Linked DNA regions of Homo sapiens. The protein of the gene in region 2 purifies or fractionates together with the protein of the main gene of each other region. This does not show direct contact. Each region holds a gene or a part of one and is shown on either strand. Other genes may lie near its edges.

Region 1 (3,753 bases), on a different chromosome or scaffold from region 2:
GATAAATCCACCAACAGAGGAGAAGAATTTGAAAAATGGTAAAACAAAACATTAGGTAACTTGAAGCTACACTGTGGAAGACCTAGAACACAAATGTAAAATGAGGGCATTGTTCCAAGCTTAGACCCCACCTGCTCTGTCATTCAAGGACACTGTGATCTGTTTCCTCTACTAGAGACAGACCTGGGATATACTTCTGCTATGGAAAATGACTTTTTTTTTGTATATTGCTAAATTGATTTTTCAGTTTCATTAGATTGCCATCATCTGCAATTTAGAAATCCAGAAACCAAAAGAAATGTGATTTTCACAAAAACTACACAATCCTGGTATGAAAAGAAATTTAGAACATCTAAATTCAGCCTAGGCAACACAGTAAGACCTCATCTTTACAGAAAAAACAAAAAAAACAGCCAGGCATGGTGGGGCATGCCTATAGTTCCAGCTACTCAGGAGGCTGAGGCAGGAGGATCACTTGAGCCCAGGAGGTCAAGGCTGCAGTTGGCTGAGATCATATCATGCCACTGCACTCCAGCCTGGGCAACAGAGTGAGACCCTGTCTCAAAGAACAACAAAAACAAACAAAAACAGAAGAACATCTAATTCAATCTCTTCCTTACAGATGGAAAAAAAGGTCGAGAATTTTTAATTTATTTTATTTTTTTGAGTTGGGATCTCGCTCTGTTACCCAGGCTGGAGTATAGTGGCACCATCATAGCTTACTGTAGCAGCCTCAAACTCCTGGGCTTGCCGGGCGCAGTGGCTCACGCCTGTAATCCCAGCACTTTGGGAGGCCAATGCGGGCGGATCACGAGGTCAGGAAATCGAGACCATCCTGGCTAACACGGTGAAACCCCATCTCTACTAAAAAATACAAAAAAGTAGCTGGGCGTGGTGACGGGCGCCTGTAGTCCCAGCTACTTGGGAGGCTGAGGCAGGAGAATGGTGTGAACCCGGGAGGTGGAGCCTGCAGTGAGCGGAGATCAAGCCACCGCACTCCAGCCTAGGCGACAGAGCGAGACGCCGTCTCAAAAAAAAAAAAAAACCAAAAAAAAATCCTGGGCTCACGTAGTCCTCCAATCTCAGTCACCCAAGTAGCTGGGACTATAGGCATGTACAACCATGCCCACCTAACTTTTTTTTTGTTTTTTGAGACAGAGTCTTGCTCTGTCGCCCAGGCTGGAGTGCAGTGGTATCATCTCGGCTCACTGCAACCTCCACCTCCCAGGTTCAAGTGATTCTCCTGCCTCAGCCTCCTGAGTAGCTGGGATTACAGGCACCTGCCACCACGCCTGGCTAATTTTTGTATTTTTAGTAGAGACGGGGTTCTACCATGTTGGCCAGGCTGTTCAAATTCCTGACCTCAGGTGATCTGTCCACCTCAGCCTCCCAAAAAGTGCTGGGATTACAGGCGTGAGCCATGGTGCCCAGCCAGAAGCTAATTTTTTTTCTTTTTCTAAATTTTTGTAGAGACAGGGTCTTACTAATGTTGATCAGGCTAGTCTTGAACTCCTGGCCCCAGGAAATCCTCCCATCTCGGCCTCCCAACCAAAGTGGTGGGATTACAGGCATGAGCCACCACAGCTGACCCAGAGTTTTTCTTTATACAGCTTTTGAGCTGTAAATAAAGTTAATCTCCCATGCTGTAAAAATATTTTTTTTTGAGTCTCGCTCTGTCACCAGGAGGGAGTGCAATGGCACAATCTCGGCTCACTGCAACCTCCACCTCCCGAGTTCCAGCGATTCTCCTGCCTCAGTCTCCCAAGTAGCTGGGACTATAGGAGTGCGCCACCACGCCCACCAAATTTTTGTATTGTTTTTAGTGGAGACGGGGTTTCACCATGTTGGCCAGGATGGTCTCAATCTCTTGACCTCGTGATCCACCCGCTTCGGCCTCCCAAAGTGCTGGGAAAATATCCACATTTTTAAGGAATTGCAAAAAATTACAAATAAAGACAAGGTTTTTCTTAAGACCTTTCATTGTTATGTTTCACTAAAAACAACAATTTTCAAATAAACACATGTATAAAAGAAAAATAAATAACTGAAGTTTTCTTTCCCAAGCCTCTTAATACTTGTAATTACATTTACAATAAAACGCATCCTTCCCTAAACCAAAGCTAAGTTTGGCTATATCGATAAAAGCAACTTTATGTCATTCACAAAATACTTCAAGTGGTAGATTTGGCCACCCTTAATTATTTTTATTTTGTTCTGCACTTGTTTTCTTTCAGAAAGCCACATGATCCTATTATTCCCTTACTTAGACCAAATTTTAACTGTTTTGATTCTAATTTATTCCACATAAATCCAGATGCTCAAAGCAAAAGACACTTTGGCAGCTAAGCTTAACATTCTTTGCTCTATGAGAGCACTTGACTCACTATAGAATAAAGCATATAATTTATTATATTCAGTGTGGTTCGTGAACAATTATTAATTGAACCAAGTTAAGAAGTAATAGTAAAAATTGTCTTCCTTCAATTACCTTTAAAATAGCAGGCATGGTTACCTCCATTGAAAATGTCTCTGTGAACAGCCTGTGGAGGGCTTCCTTCACAAAACATGATCTGTTCCTGTATCGGCTCAGTGCTTCTGAAATCTGACTCATACTGGCTCCTCCAGCAACCTGAAAATAAAGATGTTACCAAACAGGTTTCACCATTCATATTTTTTCACCATTCATTTTTAACCACAGGGTTTTTGGGGCATCCAGTGTTTAAGACAATAACAACAAATGTTCAATTAAATGTTCCAGGTGTTGGCCAGGCGCAGTGGCTCACGCCTGTAATCCCAGCACTTTGTGAGGCTGAGGCAGGTGAATCACCCGAGGTCAGGAGTAGAGACCAGCCTGAACAATATGGTGAAACCCCATCTCTACTAAAATTACAAAAATTAGCCAGGCGTGGTGGCAGGCGCCTGTAGTCCCAGCTACATGACAAAATATGCTGAGAGAAAGTAAAGATCTAAATAAATGCAGAGATATACAGGATTCAAGAATCAGGAGACTAGCGCCAGGCGTGGTGGCTAATGCCTGTAATCCCAACACTTTGGGAGTCTGAGGCTCAAGGGTTGCTTGAGCCCAGGACTACGAGACCAGCCTGGACAACATAGTGAGACCTCGCCTCTATTTTTTAAAACAACATGAGACTCAACGTTATTAAACGGCAATTTTCCTCAAACTGACCTACAGATTTAATGCAATCCCAACTAAAATACCAGTAGTCCTTTTTGTAGATATTGACAAGTTGCTTTTATGATTTATATGGAAATACAAAGAACCTAGAATAACCAAAACAATTATGAAACAGAATAACAGTTGAAGAAGTCACATTACCCAATTTCAAGACTTCATATAAAGTTATAGTAATCAAGACAGTAGGCCGGGGCACAATGGCTCAGGCCTGTAATCCCAATACTTTGGGAGGCCAAAGTGGGCAGATCACCTGAGGTCAGGAGTTCAAGACCAGCCTGGCCAACATGGTAAATCCTCATCTCTACTAAAAGTACAAAAATTAGATGGGCGTGGTGGTGCACGCCTATAGTCCCAGCTACTAGGGAGGCTGAGCCAGGAGAATCACTTGAACCCGGGAGGCAGAGGTTGCAGTGAGCCGAGATCACACCACTGCACTCCAGCCTGGGTGACAGACCGAGACTCTGTCTCAAAAAAAAAAAAAAAAAAAAAAAAAAAAGGCAATACACAAACAGATAAAAATAAAGAGCCCAGCTGGGCGTGGTGGCTCACACCTGTAA
Region 2 (3,753 bases):
AGGAGTCAATTGCAGTGCTTGTTGCCATAGTTCAGAACCTGCACCACAAAGACCCTTCCAGTTCTGTAGAGTGGTTTATTGCTTTATTATCAGTGCAATAGAGAGTCACTGAGTCACTGGAGGTTCTCTGTGTGTGTGAGTGTATAAATAAAGATTTAATTTTGTTTTGCTCTTTTGTTTTCCCCTCGGAATAGTTTATCAGATGAGGAATTTCTTGATCACTGGGGAGAAATATCTTACAATTCTGAAAACACACTGTCAAAATGCTTTTCATAAAATGTAGCACATTTTAGGGTTTCTCCCTTGTGTGGAAATGTTAGTGTCTATAAAGGTCTGAACTAAGAAAGCTTCTCTCAAGCCACAACACATGTGAGGTTCCTCTGCTGAATGAATCTTTTGGTGCTCAGTAAGTTGTGATTTCCAAGCAAAGTGTTTTTCACCCTGAGAAATTGGTGAGGTATCTTTCTCTCAGAGTCTTTTTTATGAAGTCTGATGTTGAGAGGTTCTTCCAGGTTGGAGTTCTCAGGTCTGTCTCCCTTGTAGATTATCAGAGTGGGTCGATAATCTACAAGCTTTGCTAAACCTACCTGTAGCTCTTCTGGGGCAGCGGTCGTGGTGGTGGTGGCAGCGGCAGCAGGGTTCCCCATTGATTTTCTAAATGTTTGTAGTCCTTTTGTAAAGTGGACCCTTGCCTTCTAAGGTAATGGTGAATGATACATATTCCCTTCATTTTTCTGCTTTGAAGCTTCAATCTTCTTCATTTTCTCTTTTGATCTGTCAACACAATCAGAACATTTAGCTCTTTGAGCATCTTTAAGGCAGTTGCTTTAAAGTCTGTCTAGTGAGTCAATGTTTGGTCTTCCTCATGTCCATTTTTTGTTGGTTTATTTTGTGCCTTTGAATGGTCAATACTTGTTTCTTTGTATGCATCGTGATTGTTTTTGTTGACAGCTAGACATTTGAATTTTATAATGTGGCAACTCTGGAAATAAGATTATTCCTTTTTCCCCAGGGTTTATTTTTTGTTGTTGTTTTTTGTGTTGTGTGTTTTTTGTTTTCGTTTTTGTTTTACTGTCATAGGCTGTCTCTGTGCTAGGGATCAGCCTGTGTTGAATGCCTAAAGTTGTCTCAATTCTTTACAGAGCCTGCGTTTTTCCCTGGGCGGGAGCAATGGCTTTCTGAATTCACCTAGATACACAGTTTTTTGAATGTCCAGAAAAACAGGTTTCATCCCTTTTTTCTCCTGGAAGCCACTTTAGCCAGTTGGGGGTTGGGAGAATGGTAGCTTGCTTCTTTGTCTGCTCTTTCTCTGTGATCAGAAGTAGATATCTGCAATCAGAACCCTGATATTTGGAGGAAGTGGCTATTATTGTCCACCCTGGCTGCAGCAAGCTGACCCAGAAATGTGGGGTTGTGTCTCCACAGCTGCCTGCCATGGAGTGGGTGGGGATGGGTAGCTGCTACTTCACTGAAGGCTGAAATCCACCAATGTTAACTGCAATTTACCACTCAGAATTTCCCCTAGAAGCTACAAGTGTTCAGATGGACTCATGTGCTCCCAAAATAATCACTTTAGGAACTTTCTGCCGATGTAATTATTATCTAGGTGGAGAGGTGGATTCCTGGGCCACTCTATCCATGTCTTTGATTTTTCCTGCTTTCTTGAAGATTTCTTCAACTTTATCTTCCAGCTCTACTATTAAATGTTGTGAATGTTTTTATCTCTGCTGTCATATTTTTATTTCCAAGTGCATTATCTGATTCTTTCTTCCTTTTTTCTAATTGGTTTTGTTTCATAGGTGAAATATTTTTTCTCTGAGCATGTTAATTATAGTGTCTTTCTGTGTTATTCTGCTCCCTGCATTATCCCTGTTTCCTTTGAGTTGTTTTCACCTGTTTTCTGTCTCTCACACTGGAGGCTTTCCTGAAGCCTCTGATGATCTTTGACTATTTATATTTAAGAGCAGGGCTCTAAAAAGCTGATTGGAAGGTGTTTTAGGTACTTCAGCACCATCCAACAGTAATATAATGTGAGCCACATACATAATTTCAAATTTTCTAGTAGCCACTTTTAGAAAATAAAACAGGTAAAATTAAAAATGTATTTTACTTCACCCAATATATCCATAATATTATTTCATCATGTAATCAATGTAAAAAAGTATTGAGACATTTTGTTTTTTGCACTATTTTTGAAATCTGGTATGTAATGTGTTAATCTACACACAAAATTTTCATTTGTAATACATAACTCACATTTAGATTTATAAAACGTAGAGTTGATAAGTAGATTCACATAGTTCTTCCAAACATACTTTGTTGTTGTTCTAAATATACTTAATTTTCCAATAACTGAATCAAGTATCCAGTTTTTGTTTTTTTTTTTTTTTTTTTTTTTTTGAGATGGAGTCTCACTCTGTTGCCCAGGCTGGAGTGCAGTGGCGCAATCTTGGTCCACTGCAACCTCCGCCTCCTGGGTTCCAGCAATTCTCCTGCTTCAGCCTCCCCAGTAGCTGAGATTACTGGTGCACACTGCCACGCCTGGCTAATTATTTTAGTAGAGGCGGGGTTTCACTGTGTTGCCCAGGCTGTTCTCCAACTCCTAAGCCCAGGCAATCTGCCTGTCTCGGCCTCCCAAAGTGCCGGGATTACAGGTGTGAACCGCCACACACAACCCCAATTTTTGTTTAAAATTTGCATCCACATTAACAAAACTTTTATTAGAAAAATTCATTTAATATCTAGGCAAAATTATATCACTTTCAAAACTTTTTAAGTAAATTCAGTAACATATCAATTCAGTTTATTAGCATCAAATTTGATGAAGCAGTGCATAAATGGAAACAAAACAGTTTATCAATACAATATATCATTCTTCAGATTTTGCTTATTTTTTGCAGCCATTTATTACATTTAAAATTTTGTGCATATTGTCTCATTTGAAAAATGTGAGTTATTCTGTTTTATTTGTATTATGAAATGTTTCTATTGTAAATAAATTCTTTTACCTGTCTAGCCAGGTCACAAGTTTTTCCCATTTTAGGAGCTTCAAATTTAGCTTGTTCATATGCAGCGTGATATTAGGGAGAAAATGTGAATCACAGTGCTACTTTTTGTCTTTGATTGAATATTTGGTAAGCATTTCTTTTGTTTCAAGGAAATCTTGAATTGGATTTTCTAGTACAGGAAATCCTTATAAAATTCTTTTGTAAGTCATCCAGGTAACATTGGTAAAGAAACAAGATCATTAGATACATTGTCTTTTTTTTTCAGAAGTTTCATAAACTGTCAACATTCTATAGCTTTTGTGCATATGTACTGAAGAATTATAACACATGTATCCGTGACTCGTTTCTTGGAGTCTGCTTCAGAAAATTGAACACAAATATTTTCAGTATGTATCATGCAATAGAATAGAGCAATGAGGGAAAAGTTATCCTCTTGCTTTAAAATTCCAACATGGATGGTCTTTTGACTTAACTTAGCTGGAGTTCCATCCTTGTGATAGAAACTAACTTTTCTGTCTCTAACTGAAATTCTTTGACAGATGGAAGATTGTCAAAAATATCTGCCATGAGTTTGAGCCTTTAGGCAATGAATTCACATTTCATTGCCTTTACATGAATCGACATTGTAAATTTGGAGGTTCTTTGAGACAGAATATACCCAGAGTTTTCTTTGGGCAGTGTCTTGTATCAAACAGTTCATCTAAGGCTAAAGAAAAATACTTGAAATTTTTCAAGATTTGAATTA

What was found. The genes of interacting proteins can lie anywhere in the genome.
Region 1: the proteins of ZNF483 (region 2) and ZYG11A purify together in Homo sapiens (affinity purification with mass spectrometry; 2 studies listed by BioGRID and IntAct, with this or other methods). This does not show direct contact.

What each region holds. Positions count from the first base shown.
Region 1 is NC_000001.11:52,859,607-52,863,359, reverse strand, and holds part of ZYG11A (protein zyg-11 homolog A), read right to left. Parts: intron 2,630-3,753; coding exon 2,489-2,629; intron 1-2,488. UniProt on the Homo sapiens protein: Probably acts as a target recruitment subunit in an E3 ubiquitin ligase complex ZYGA-CUL2-elongin BC.
Region 2 is NC_000009.12:111,549,026-111,552,778, forward strand, and holds part of ZNF483 (zinc finger protein 483), read left to right. Parts: 3' UTR 1-747; coding exon of another isoform or gene 748-774; 3' UTR 775-3,753. UniProt on the Homo sapiens protein: May be involved in transcriptional regulation.